Homo sapiens: one gene and its partner. The protein of the gene in region 1 interacts with the protein of each later gene in a pairwise test. Each region holds a gene or a part of one and is shown on either strand. Other genes may lie near its edges.

The links.
Region 2: the proteins of MAPK1IP1L (region 1) and C1orf94 interact in binary tests that used the Homo sapiens proteins (3 or more experiments, as listed by UniProt).

The regions. Positions count from the first base shown.
Region 1 is NC_000014.9:55,054,301-55,061,760, reverse strand, and holds part of MAPK1IP1L (MAPK-interacting and spindle-stabilizing protein-like), read right to left. Parts: intron 607-7,460; exon of another isoform or gene 590-606; coding exon of another isoform or gene 588-589; intron 82-587; coding exon of another isoform or gene 78-81; coding exon 60-77; intron 1-59.
Region 2 is NC_000001.11:34,172,129-34,179,985, reverse strand, and holds the start of C1orf94 (uncharacterized protein C1orf94), read right to left. Parts: upstream 3,080-7,857; 5' UTR 2,197-3,079; coding exon 1,877-2,196; intron 1-1,876.

The DNA of each region.
Region 1 (7,460 bases):
GACCATGTTGTTTTTCTTAAGAGATGAAAAACTTATCACAGATAAACTGATCAACTTACCGAAAATTCATCAGACATTTTCCTAAAAAAAGAAAAGAAATGAAGGAAGAAAGAAAAATTTCAAAATCAGTGTTCACCATTTCTTAAATATTCCTTAAGGAACTTTCTATGCATACATTATTATTACTTAAGCGGAATCTTATTTATGTAATGTGTTTTTCTTTACATAGGAAAGTTTTCCATAATAGTTCATACAGCTCTATTAACTTCATCCCTTTTAATGGCTGCACATCATACAAAAATGATTTGCAATTTAATTTACCTTCTTTTTGTAGCAGTATAAGTTGTTTTAAGTATGATACAGTGAACATCTCTCAACACTTCTTTGTTTGTGTGTGAGAATCTAACACCAGGAAAAAGCACTGGACATGGAATTTAGAGTCAACAGATAAATTTATCTAAAATCCATTTGAAAAGTCCATGCCAATTTACACTCATTTCTCTAACTCCTTTTACCACTGGATATTATTAAATTTATTGTTTATAATGACAATAGATATTAAAAATTAGCGTCTTATTTTAACTTACATTTCCTCGTCTTTTTTTTGGAGACAGGGTCTCATTCTGTCACCCAGGCTGGAGTGCAGTGGCGAGAGAGATCACAGCTCACTGCAATCTTGACCTCCTGGGCTCAAGTCATCTTCTTGCCTCAGTCTCCCTAATAGCCGGTACTACAGGTGTGTGCCATCATGCCCAGCAAATTTCTTAAAATTTTAAAAATTTATTGCAGAGACAGGTGTCTCACTATGTTGCCCAGACCCGGTCTCAAACTCCTGGGATCAAAGGACCCTCCTGCCTCAGCCTCCCAAAGTATTGGGATTATAGCCATGAGCCACTGTGTGTACTCCCAAATTTAAATTTATTGATGTCCTGGAGTACTTTTACCAATTTTTAAATTGAAGTGTAATTAGCACTCAACAAAATGCAGAGATCTTAAGTGTTCAGATTAACAAGCTCTGATAATTGTATACGCCCCTATAACCACCCCAAGATACAGAACATTTCTCACTCCAGAAAGTTTACTCATGCTCTTTTCCAATCAACTACCTTGCCTCATGGCAGTCAATTTTTGACTTAATTTTGCTTGTTCTTTGACTTTATATAAATAAAAGACTGTAGGTACTCTTTGCCTTTGATCATTTTATTACTCAGTAGCACATCTTTTTCTCTCACTGCTTTGTAAGATACTAAGCAGACTAGCTTTCATATATGAGATTAAAATTTTTTGGCCGGGTGCAGTGGCTCACGCCTATAATCCCAGCACTTTGGGAGGCCGAGGCAGGCGGATCACGAGGTCAAGAGATCGAGACCATCCTGGCTAACACGGTGAAACCCCGTCTCTACTAAAAATACAAAAAAACGATTAGCCCAGTGTGGTGGCGGGTGCCTGTAGTCCCAGCTACTTGGGAGGCTGAGGCAGGAGAATGGCATGAACCTGGGAGGCGGAGCTTGCAGTGAGCCGAGATTGCGCCACTGCACTCCAGCCTGGGCAACGGAGGGCTACTCCATATCAAAAAAAAAAAAAAAAAAAAAAAAAAAAAAAAAAATTTCTCCAAAATTCCTTTTATCTGTAGATCTCTTAAAGGGCATATTTTGGTTATACAAAAGTTTTAAATTTCATGTCATCAAATCTATCAATGTTTTCCTATACGTGGCTTCTGGATTTTGTGATATATTTACAAAGGCCTTCCCTACTCTGCCTTGCTTTCATATAGTATTTTTATGGTTTAACTTCTTGTTTAAAACCTTTAAATTCTTCCAAACAATAATTATCAACTATCTATCTTTTCTCAGCTAATTGGACAAGCTACCTTTACTACACTATACTGCTGCCATTTATAACTAGCATCTATCCAATATTTACCATGAAACATGGAACATGGTGGTGTACTGTGCACCACCTCACTTGGTAGCTCCAGAACCCAGATACAAATTTTATTTTCACCCCCAGTTTACAGCTGGAGAAGAGGAAGCTTGGCAAGTTAACTTGTTTAAGGTCCCAGAGCTAATGACAAGGAGAGAAGCAGTTCAAACCCAGTATGACTCCAGAACTTAGGCTCTTAACAAGCAGGCTATAGAGCCTCCTTCATTTCCCACAGATATTGTGGACTTTATTCTTTTCTTTTTGAAACAGTCTTGCTTTGTTCCCTGGCCAGAGTGCAGTGGCACCATCATAAGCTCACTGCAGACTCGACCTTCTGGGCTCAATCGATCCTGCCCAGCTAGTTTTTTTGTAGAGATGGAGTTTCACCATGTTGCCCAGGCTGGTCTTGAACTCCGGAGCTCAAGTGATCTGCCTGCCTCGGCCTCCCAAAGTCTTGGGATTACAGGCGTGAGATACTGTGCCCAGCTGACTTTATTCTTTTCTACTGGTCTGCAACTGTACCATTCCATTTTAATTACAGAAGCTTTACAATATATTTTAAATAAACATTAATGTGAGTCACCCTACTGTCTTTTTTTTTTTTTTTTTTTTCAGATTTTCCTATGTATTTTTATTTTTTCCAGATCGTTAAAAAAAAAAATTAATGTGTTAGCATTCTGGTTGGAAATGTATTATATTTACAGATTAATCTAGGGGAACATCTATTTAAAATGTCAAATCATCTCGTTCAAGAACAAGGTATAGTATAGTCCCTCGGTACCTGAGGGAGATTGGTTCTAGGACCCCCATAGATACTCAAATCCCAGGATGCTCAAGTACCTGATATAAAATGGTGTAGTATTTGCATATAACCTATGCACATCTTCCCGTATAAATCATCTCTATATTATTTATAATACTTAAAAGTGTGAATACTATATAATTATATTAACTTATATTTTCTATGGTTATTTTTATTGTTTCCCCCAAGTATTTTTTTTTTTTTGAGACAGGGTCTCACTCTGTTGCCCAGGCTAGAGTGCAATAGCATGATGTCAGCTCACTGCAACCTCCATCTCCTGGGTTCAAGAGATTCTCCTGCCTCAGCCTCCTGAGTAACTGGGATTATAGGCAAGCGCCGCCATGCCCGGCTAATTTTTTGTATTTTTAATAGAGACAGGGTTTCACCACGTTGGCCAGGCTGCTCTTGAACTCCTGGCCTCACGTGATCCGCCCGCCTCAGCCTCCCAAAGTGCTGGGATTACAGGCATGAGCCACCGCACCCGGCTCCCTGAATATTTTCTACCCGCAAATGCAGACACAGAGGACTGTTTAGTTCCTGTCCTTTTCATGTAGTTTATTTTCTTGATCAGATCTCCTATATACATTTCTTTTAAGGGATTTCTGTTAAACTTTTCCCTGTGGTTGTAAATAGGCTCTTTTCTTCTACTGTATTTTCTAATTGTTCGTTCATATATGGGACAGGGTTTTAAAATTTTAGTCTATAGCAGGTCCTCGAAAGACGTTTCATTCAACTTTGTTTTGTTATAATGTTGATGAGAAGAAAAAACAAAAAGTCTCAGCTGAGGTCACTGTCTGTGTGAAGCTGGCTCATTCTCCCATCTTTATGGGTCTTCTCCAAGTACTCCAGTTTCCTCCCATATCCCAAAGATGCACATGAATGGATGTGTCTACGCGGCCCAGTCTGTGAGCGTGGGTGTAGGTGAGAGCACCCTGTGCTGGGATGGCGTCCAGTTCAGGGCTGGTTCCCAACTTGGACTCTGAATTGCCAAGAAAGGCTCCAGCCATTGAGACCCTGAACTGGAAGAGGGAGGCAAATAATTATCTTTTTATTAATCTTTCTTAAATGTATACACAGCTCACATTCATTCAATTTTTTTTTGAGACAGGGTCTTGCTCTGTCACCGAGGCTGGAGTGCAGTGGTGTGATCACAGCTCACTGCAACCTCCACCTCCCAGGCTCAAGTGGATCCTCCCACCTTAGCCTTTGAGTAGCTGGGACCATAGGCATGCTAATTTTTAAAATTTTTAGTAGAAATCATTTAAATTTTTTTTTTTTTTTGAGATGGAGTCTCGCTCTGTCGCCAGACTGGAGTGCAGTGGCGCGATCTTGGTTCACTGTAACCTCCGCCTCCTCAGTTTAAGCGATTCTCGTGCCTCAGTCTCCTGAGTAGCTGGGACTACAGGTGCGGGCCACTACACCCACTAATTTTTGTATTTTTAGTAGAGACGGGGTTTCACCATGTTGTCCAGGATGGTCTCCATCTCTTGACCTTGTGATCCGCCCACCTTGGCCTCCCAAAGTGCTGGGATTACAGGCGTGAGCCACTGCGCCCAGCTCATTTAAATGTTTAATACTAGAAGTGTTTTGGGTTTTATTTAAAAGTTTAGTGATGTTTTTGTTACCAGAAATATGCCATAGGAATTTAACTCTTCTTTATATTAATTAACCTAGGGTAGGAAGCATCATTACTGAATTATTTTATTCTTCAAAGTTTCTCACTTGATTCTCTGGTATTTCCAGATAAAAAATACGCCATTTGCAAAAAATAACTTTCCTTCTCTAATATTTATGCATCTTTTCTGTTTTGCACTTGCTAGGACTTAAATAATGAAATGTTGAGTGATAGTGGGCACAGAGGTCTTGCTCCAACTCTCCTGGGAATGCTAATGTTTAAGTATGATTCCCATTTTTAGTTTGAGATTTTAAAAAATTACATTATTTTTAATTTATGCCTATGCTATTATTTATTCCTATTCTGTTAATAAAGAAAGCAAGAAGACATTAAATTCCCTCAAAAGACTTTTCAGTATCTAATGAATTGATCTCATGCTTTTTCTCCTTTGACCTATCAATACAGTATTAACATAGAGCCACCTTTGTATTCTTAGCATCTTATTTCTAATTATGATTTGATTATCATGAGGAAAGGACAAGAACATAAAGGACAAGAACCCAAGCCTATCCCAACTGCTATATCCTTTTTATTCAGAATATCAAAAAACATGGCCGGGCGCGGTGGCTCACGCCTGTAATCCCAGCACTTTGGGAGGCCGAGGAGGGCGGATCACGAAGTCAGGAGATTGAGACCATCCTGGCTAACAAGGTGAAACCCCGTCTCTACTAAAAATACAAAAAATTAGCCAGGCATAATGGTGGGCACCTGTAGTCCCAGCTACTCAGGAGGCTGAGGCAAGAGAATGGCGCGAACCCAGGAGGCGGAGCTTGCAGTGAGCTGAGATCAAGCCACTGCACTCCAGCCTGGGTGACAGTGCAAACTCCGTCTCAAAAACAAAAAAACAAAAAAACCCACATACAACCCATTCCCATGTTAAGGTTTAACGTCAATCACATCACACAATAAAATTTTTAGGACTAACAGTGTAGAAAATATACGGTAAGTTGTAAGGCTAACATGCTTTTTAAACAGGGTTAGCCTTTCTGAAATAGAAAATGATTCTGTATCAAAGTTCATATTAATTCTGGAGTTGAGAATCAAAGTGAACCAAATGGCCTTGACTGTTCAGGTTTTCAGAATTATACAGTTACCTAGTCATGGAATTACATAAATTATTCTACAAGTTAATAATATTCAACTGATTCACAACACTACTTCAAAATTTTAAAGTTCAAAATCCAAGTCTGGAAGATAGGGGAGGTGCTAGAATCTTGTGATTAAAAAACAAAGCCCTAAGCATAGGAATTAGTAACAAGTTCTGTTCTACGGCACTGTCTTAGTAAAGTGACCAGCTCTCCATTCCTAGAATAAACAGCGTTCATGTTAGGGTGATCCCCCCTTATCTGTGGTTTTAATTACCTAAGGTCCGAACATATTAAATGAAAAATTCCAGAAATAAATAATTCGTAAGTTTTTTGTTTTGTTTTTGAGATGGAGTCTCGCTCTGCCACCCAGGCTAAAGTGCAGTAGTGTGATCTTGACTCACTGCAACCTCCGCCTCCCAGGTTTAAGTGATTCTCCTACCTGAGCCTCTCAAGTAGCTGGGATTATAGGCACGTGCCACCACGCCCGGCTAATTTTTAATTTTTGGTAGAGACGGGGTTTCACCATGTTGGCCAGGCTGGTCTCAAACTCCTGGCCTCAAGTAATCCGCCCACCTCAGTCTCCCAAAGTGCTGGGATTAGGCATGAACCACTGCACCTGGCCAATTCCTAAGTTTTAAATGGGGCAAGAGCATGTTCTGAGTAGCAAAATGAAAGTTTGCCCCCTCCTGCCTAGGACGTGAATCATCCCTTTGTCCAGTGTATCCATGCTGTATACGCTATCAGCCCATCTTGGTTATTAGATCTAAAAAACATGGTATACTTAGGCTTCGGCAGTGTATACAGACTTCAGTTTCAGGGATTCATTGGGGAGTCTTGCAATGTGTCCCCCTAGGATAAGGGGGAACAACTATAATTGGAAGCATTCCAATTTGTTCTTTGGAGAATACTTTCATTAGAAAAGGTGAAAAACAGTTGGACATGAACGTTTCAATATGAGGAGAGTTGCAGAACATAAAAAGTTTAGGTTTTCTAAAAAGCTATTCTAAGCCGCGCTTGGTAGTGTGCACCTGTAATCCCAGCTTCTCAGGAGGCTGAGGTGGGAAGACCGCTTGAGGCCAGTAGTTAAGAGACCAGCCTGGGCAATATTAGTGGCACTCTGTCTCAAAAAGAAAAATAAATAAAAATATAAAGCTATTCCAAAATATCTGAATCATCGCTAATTATTAAGATGAGGCCAATGTAACCTTGAACTCATAAAAACAATTTATACTCAAGAAAGGCTTTCTTTTTTTTCTTTTTGGAATAATCTAAAGCTATTATTTCCAAAACTTTGTTACCATTTTATAGCATGATCCACCCATCATCTGAAAAACAATACTTTTTATTCTTTGAATAGCAAGAATAGTAATTTTAAAACAGTACAAAATGTCTTTTGACATACACTAGAAAAGTAAAACATAACATTTTTGGAAACTCTCATGGCTGTTAGGGTAAAAATCATGGGTCAGGGAGGAGGGTGGTTAAGAGAGTTGAACTCCATGAATTACCAGTGGAGTTCATGGATATTTCAGACAGCCTTCAAATTGTGATGGAGTGATAAACAGTATGGGACTACACAGTGATGAAACCCGGACATGAATCCTTTTGACGGTTATCTTTTGACAAAAAACTTCTCAATAAGAGACCATTTTCCATCTGTAGAAGTTATAATTCCTGCCCACTGCACAGAAAATAGTAACACACTTAATCTATAAAGTGCTATATACATGTTAGATATTTGTTAGGCGAAATTAAGCGAAATCAAAATTTTTGGGTTGATTTGTTTAGTATGGGGGGATGATATGTATCGTACTGAAAATATAAATTAATGGCCGGGTGCGGCGGCTCAAGCCTGTAATCGCAGCACTTTGGGAGGCCGAGGTGGGTGGATTACTTGAGGCCAGGAATTCAAGACCAGCCTGGCCAATGGTAAAACCCTATCTCAACTAAAAATACAGAAAATTAGCTGGGC
Region 2 (7,857 bases), on another chromosome or scaffold:
TTATTCGTCTAAGTCATTGGTTTCCTATCTCTTTTCTCAATAGCAGAAACATGTTTTTCAAATTCAGCCCTACTCAGAACTCTAGTAAGTAAAACTGATAAAAGCTAAACAGCTCTGGCTGAAATGGATTTTGGGGCCCAGCAACCAGCCCACTTGACTCCACAGTGACCCCTGAAGCACCTTGAGGTATATGGAGCATAGTGTGAACCCCAGATTGAAGCCAACAACAACAAAAACAACAACAACAACAACAAATCCCAACCTGAAGAAGTACATGTTAAGAGCAGCCTGATTTGTATAATGCATCTTTCATTTCCCTGTCTCCCATCACATTGGATCCTCATTATCAACTCTGAGGTAGACAAGGCAGCACATATCACCCTCAATTTGCAAATGAGGAAGTAAAGGCCAAATGGAGTTAAGCAGCTGGCCAAAGGTGCACCAGTTCAATTTTCAGCCAAGTGCAGACTGGAAGTCGAGTCTGTCTCCATTAACTCTGTGTGACCTGGCAAAGAGGATGCCATCTACTGGAAATTGCTACTGACCCTTGGTCCACAAAGTGGACAATCAGCTTCTTGGCCATTGAGAGCAGAGCACAGCCCCATGGGCCCTCCTGCCAAGGCCCTGTCCCAGAGCAGATGGCAATGAGCAGGGGAGAAGGGCTCAGTGCCACTGAAGGGCCTGACAGCAGGATTTTAGCTGTAGATGGGCCATTCCTGTCTGAGCCTTGTCATGCTGAGCACAGGGCAGGGAGGCAGGACTAGCCAAAGTGCCTTCCACCTTCATCTGCAGTAAGTAAATGAGCCCACAGAGGGACAGCAGGTAGTGTAGAGCTGGGTGTCATTTACACTTTGCTTTTCTTCTTAGCTCTTGCTTAGGCATCCCTGAAACCCGAGGCAGCTGATAAATGCCTGAATGGCTCCCCAACTCCAGAGCATCTCTGAACTGAGCTGTAGCATGTGTTGGAGCAGGCAACACTTAATTATCGGTTAGTCTTTAATTAGCTCTTAATTATTAACACTTAATCCATCTGTAAAATGGGGACACTAATACCTGCCTCACAGGGACTCTGGGAACATTAATTAAGTTTACAGTCCACTTTGAAGATGCAAAACGTGAAATAAGTAAGTGCTCAACGGCGGTATTAATAACCACAGCAGATTTACTTTCTTTTCCTAATTTCCCTTTTTCCTCTCTGCTCCTTCCTTTCCTTTCGAATATCCATCCTCAACAATATCTGCCCAACTTTGCCCTGATGGAGAAACACTTAGCTCTGTGTTTCCCAGACACAGGATTTCCCATCCCGGAAACGGGCTATTTACAGCCATCTTCCCGCACTTTAATTTTCTATTATGTCCTCTGAATATGTCAGTGCCTTCCCAGTAAATATTTTGATGTGTGCTCTTGCAGCAGCTTCTGTGGAGGCTGAATGGGACAGCTGCTCCCTGTATTAGGGAATTCCAGATGTGATTTAAAACCATCAGACTCATCCATGTGAATGCCTAGCCTTTAGGTGGGAGAGGGGAAGGATCTTCTAGTTGCTTCTGGGGAAAGCCACAAGCCATATAACCCTTAGCCTTAGCTAGGGTGGTTTTTCAAGGACCTCAGATTCACATGCGTTTAGGATGAGAAATGTCTGCTTAACGGGCTGGTGAAGAGGCAGCCTGGAATATAGCCCTAATCTGACTCTTCACCCACAAAACTTCAGAACTTTGGTCAGCTCTTCTATAAAGCTTGGACAAAGGACCATGGAGGGGGCAATATACAGCCTTTAGGGTTTCACCAGCCTCAACAGTGGGCCAGAACATTCCCCCAGAAGGTCAGACTTCATCTCCTCCCTCCTCCCTTGCTGCCAATGGAGTAGGGGGGTACTTACTCTTCTTGAAAGCTGAGCTCATTGCCTCTTAGAGTTCCAACCACAGGGACAGAGAGCTGCTCCATGGAGGTCCAGGGCTGTGAGGCCTCAGGCAGGCCTTGAACTCTCTTCCAGATTTCATGGCAAGTCTTGTCTAGGCTGTCTTGGGGTGTGTCCTGGTGGATCCAGATGTATCTGGGGAATGGGCCCAGGGCGCAGGGGCCCTTGGCCACCAGGGCCGAGGATGAAGGAAGCCCATTCCCGCTGGCCATCCTCCTCCTCTCTTTCTGGAAGCCCCTCTGTCCACCCAGGGCTAGAACACAACCACCACCACCCCTCATTCACCAGAAAGGGAGATGAGGATGGGGCTTGGCAGAAGTGGGTCAGTTCTGTCTGGCTTTCGCTCCAGCAAGGTGGTTAGGTTCAGAGGCCTTCTATTTGTGTGGGAGGGGTGGGTGGAGGACAGCTTTCTTTTGGGGAGGGGAGGGCTTATTTTGATTTGTTTTTATTTGCTCTTTCCTGACTTTTGCCTCCCTCCCCCTCTCCCTTAGAAGAAAATATTTAAAAGTCAACAAAAACCAGTAGCTTAGGAACAGTGGAATGCTGCGGAGCTCAGGAACCAGGCGCCTGGGCGGGCAGAATGACATCTGGGAACAGCTGGAAGGGGAGGGCTGGCTCTCCCCACAGTCCCTGGCACTGCCCCCTTGCGACGCCGCCGTGACAACTTTCGGCGCCTGGGCTCAGCCCATGCTGTCCCGCTAAGCCACGCGGAGGACTGGGTGCGGGCCTGGCACCATTGTAGGCACTCGGGGGGCGGGGCCCCGCAGGAGGCGCTCGCCTGGGCGTTCCCAGGGAGCCCCTCGCAGAGCGAGCGTCAACGGCCCGACTCCCACCCCCGGCCCAGGTCCTGCTTTTCTCTCGCCCTACCCCTCCTGCTCCCGGTCTCCCGCTGCTGCTCTGCTGCCCCCGGAAAGAAGGGATGAGGCGTGTGTGGATGGGCCCACAGCCCTTAGTCCCCGGCCCCCAGCAGACCCCTGCCCCAGCCGCGCCGCGCTGCCAGGCGGGCACCGGGAAGGGCCCAGCGGCTCAAGAGCGCGCTGACTCGGCAAGGCAGGCTGGGCCGGGCGGCTCCCACCAATTTGCCTGCCAGTAGCTCCCACACCCTCGCCGTCGTCGAGCGGGGGAATTCTTTCTGTGGGTTTCAAACGCAACGGCTCGGTGCGCGGGGCGCCCTGGGTTCGGAGCCCAAGACCCGCCGGTGGGGTGGGTGGGGGTGGGGCCCAAAGGACCCCAGAGCGCTTCGGGGGATCAGAAGTCAAAGCCAAACGCGCCGCCGCCCCACTTCGCCGCTCCACACAAATCTCAGCTCCTGCCTGGGGGTCCCCCGGCAACCTCGATTTTAATCCTAACTGCCATTTTATGGGGCGCTTGCCCTGTGCCAAGCGCTGGGCTCACATTCAATCCTATTAAAGCTCGTGAAATTAGTACCACTTTTTATTATCGTTCTACACGGGAGGAAAGCGAATCTCAAAGTCATAAGGGATTGCGTCCAAGGCCCCCTGAGAAAAGGGAAGCTGAGACTCAGACCCCAGCACTCTAGGCCTGATCTAGCCCTTGACCACTGAGACAGCTTCAGTAGGTGGGTAGGAGCAGGAGTAGGAGGTCCGAGGTGCAGGGAGAAGGGCTAAGTTAGCTGTTTGCTGATCAACAGGCCCCTACCCTCACTGAAGCGGCTTCATTCAATTGGGCACTGACACAGTACCTCTGCTGAGGGAGACTTTCTGGTTCCGAGAGTCAGGGGGTTGCTTCTCTAGCAATTCCCCTGAAAAGGAAAAGCAAGAGGGTGGAGACGGAAGAAAGAAGAATGGACACAAATAGAGGAAGATGGCAGTCTATAAATGCAGGGCTGGGTTGAATCCTGACACTCATTTCCGAGCTGTGTGACCTTAAGAACTTTCTGAACTTCTCCCATCCCCATTCATAATTCCCCCAGTACTGATGCAACCCCTCCTCTGTGCCCGATGAGTTGCTGGGCACTGAAGAAGCATAAGGGTGGGCAAAAATGGCATGGTCCCTGCTCTCCTGGAGCCTGTATACTAGCGAGGAGAGATCGATGCAAACCAGCCAAGCGAGTAAAGCAGCAATAATTACAGATGCAATGGGACTCTGATGGAAAATAACTATTAGGTTGGTGCAAAAGTAATTGCGGTTTTTGCCATCACTTGCAATGGCAAAAACCACAATTACTTTTGTACCAACCTAGTAACAAAGTGAGGCACTGGGGAGAAGAGGGGAGGCAATATTCCATGGTGGTCCAGGCCGACTTCTTTGAGGAGAAAAATTTGAGAAGGATGAGAGGAATTCCTTTTCTGTAAAATGGTGTTAATAAATTATGAGGATCATGTTTCTGGCACATAGTAGGCACTCAAAAAATATGTGTTGGATGAATTAATGGTATACTGTATGTAAAGTGCCTGGTATACAGTAGGTGCCCAATACGCAACCTTGCTCTTTACAGAGGGGCTGAGTTCCTGGAAATGTTTACTCTAAATTTTGAAATCTGAGCTTCATTCTCCTTTGATTTTCATTACAAAATTGAAGATGTGTTCCTTTGGGGAAAATTCTGAGGGCCTAGACTGAATAAAATTATAGTTAAGAATGTAGAAAACCTTTTAAAATAGTGTATTTAAAGGAAAAGTGATCATTTCTGATGAAATATTAATAGTTCTGAAAATGTCACTCAGTGTTTGTGCTGCTTGGCATTTGGTTGGCTAACACCTTAAGCTTAGAGCAGAACGCCAACGACCCTGCACTGCCCAGGCCCCAGGATTCTGGAAGTTAGCCAGCTCACTCACTCTTCCTGTTCCCTCTCCCCCTCAGCAGGAGACCAGGCAACGGGGGCTAAATCAGAAAGGACTGCAAAAAAAAAAAAAAAAAAAATCAAATACAGCAGGGATACGGAACAAAGATAGAGCATGTTTTTAGAGTGCACAGACGAGATTTCTAGAAAATTCTGCAAAAATCTTAAGTGATGTACTTAGAAATAGTATAAAGCTATGTCCATATGGTAGCCACTAGCCACATGGGGTTGTTTTAATTTTAACTTTATTTTTATATAAATTAAATGAAAAATTCAGCTCCTCATTTGCATTAGCCACATATTATGTGCTCAGTAGCCACATATGGCTAGTGGCTACCATATTGGACAGCACAGAGAACATTTCTTATCATTAAATACATATTCTCGGGAACCAGAGTCCCTGGGTTCAGATTCTGAGTTCACGTTTTCTGGCAATGTAAGCTTAGGCAAGTTACTCTGTGCCTTGGTGTATTAGTTTGGTAGGGCTACCATAACGAAGTCCACAGACTGTGTGGCTTAAACAACAGAATTTTATTTCCTTGCCATTCTAGAGGTTAGAAGGCCAAGACCAAGATGTTGGCATTGTTAGTTTCACTCTGAAGTCTCTCTCGCTGGCTTGCACTTGGCTGTGTTCTCCCTATGTCCTCACATGGTCTTCCCTGTATATGTGTCCCTGTCCTAATCACTCCTTTAAAGGACACCAGTCATATTAGATTAGGACACACCCTAATGGCTTTTTTCTTTTTTTTAATCTTAGCTACCTCTTTAAAGGACTCATCTCCAAATACAGTCACATCTGAGGTATTTGGTTTAGGATTGCAGCATATAATTCAGCCCACAACATTTGATTTCTTAGTCTGTAAAATGGGATGATAATGAAGAATACTTGCTTTGTAGAATTACTACAGATGTTCTATTACTAACCAATTGCTTAACACATGGAAAGTCCCTTGAACAACAACTGACAGATAAACGTGTTATACAGTTGTTTGCTTGTTGATTACACTGAAATGCATGCCTTTGGAGTTTCTGAATAGCAGCTTTTGTGTTTTGTGTAGAGAGGGAGAATTGTGTTGTACTGGGGAAGTTGTTCTGTGATGGAGAAACGAATTCACATAATCACTTACGCCTTTCCAGGCTTTGTTCATTTTTGAGCATCCATCATGGGTCAAAATTGTGAAAGACACAGGGATTAGAGATGATGAAAAAGATGTCTACCCTAGACAGAATCACCTAGTGACAGAGGCGGGGCAAAGCATTCCATAAGTGCCTGGTGCAGAGCAGTGTGATATAAACTGACTTATTCCAGTTTCCATCCAACATGGAGTTATGTTCCTCCAACACATGTATCTATGCCCAGCACTGTTTGAGGTGCTGAAGATAGAGTAGTGAAGAAGAGGAGTTTGGTCTCTGTCTTTTTTAGAGTTTAAAGTGAAGCATTTAATGGTCATGGACACCATTTAATCTGTAAATTATTTTTAGCTTGGAAAACTTCTTGAATTCCCCCTGACTACTTACATTACCCTGGGCAGGTTGGTTTAACCTCAATGTCTCCATTTGCTCATCTATGAAACAGAGACAATAAAATACTGACCTCATAGACTTGTTTTACGATAATGAAATAATACATGTAAAGTGCTTATAATAGCTTGGCTAATGTATGTATCCAGTGAATGTTGGCTATCATTATTTAGAATTCTGGGATTCTTAGCTTTTCTCTGTGGAACCAGGAAGGCCTAAGGAGGAGGCAATTCTCCTTACCTCCCATCCAGTCAAAGCCTCTTCTCATCTGGCTTTCATCTCTGACACAAACATGGCTAGGCTGGAAAACTCAGAAACGTGGGAATGGCCTAGGCTCTTTTACAATCATCATATAGCCCCTAAGGCTGCTTACTCTTGTAGGTCCTTTTAGGTTCCTCATCTAACATATTTTAAACACACCCACCTCTCACCATAAAAATAACTTTTTGGCTATAGAGGAAAATTGAAAGGATTTTTGCCATTTTGCTTTTGAAAGTTTTTGGCCATGAGTAATTTATTTAATTTGTGATGGGCTGTGATTTCTCACCAATCTTAGTGCCTACTCGAGAAATCTTGTGCAGTGAGAAAACTCCAACCTACAAATTGTTACCAAATGCAATGAAATTTTTATGACTACTAAATCCAACAGTTAATGAAGTTGACATAATGTTATACTCTGCATTTAATTAAATATTTACTGATTTCCATGTGGCAGTTTTCTTCTTTGTATTGTGGGACTAATCATAAAATATTTAGGACTCAAACGCTTTTGTAGGTCCCTAAAACCCAGAGGGACCCCCATTCCCATGCGAATAATGCTCAATGGGTCAAACTGCCCAGAGGCAGGATCCATGCATAGGAGTATCCCAGGCAAATATCTTGGGGAATTAACCATCACAGCTAAAGGAAGAGGAGGTTGCAGCCATGTTTCATGGGAATGGGCCTCCCCCTCATGTTGTCTCAGCAACAGGACAGGGCTGCAGAGCAGCCAGCCATTTCTAGGACTTTGAAAAGGAACCTTGAATATTCTGCAAGCAAAGCTGTGACTCTGTGGCTTCTCTCTCCTGGCAACACCATCGGTGATCTCTGCCATTTCTTGGGGGTTTTTCCCTTACTATTGCCTTGTTCCTTGCCCACATGAGAGGAGGCAGTTAAGAGCTCGGGTGGTGGCAGCTGACACACTTGAATTGGAATTCCTACTCTACTACTTGATAAAGGTGGCTTTGTATATACTTAACTTCTCTGACATTTCTTCATCTGCAAAGTTGTAAAAACAATAGGTTTGGGGTAGGAAGAAGGTTTAAATATGGAAATGCACGTGAACTTCTCAACACAGTGCCTGGCTTATGGTAAACTCTCAATAAAAAGAAATGTGTAATTATGATTATCACTAGCTATTGTTATTGAGAGCCTAGCAATGTAAAAATGGCAGCCTATGAGATCTCCACTTAAAGTTAGGGAAAAGGAAGGTCCTAGATGACAGAATAAAAGAATATGGTGGTGGCAGTAGTGGTCCAGTGAGGTAGAAACAAAGTCAGAATTCAGCTGGCTTTCCTCCTGCTTTGGTTTTTCTGCCAGACCCCAGTAGTGATAGGTATGCCAAGGATTCCTGGCGAGGCCC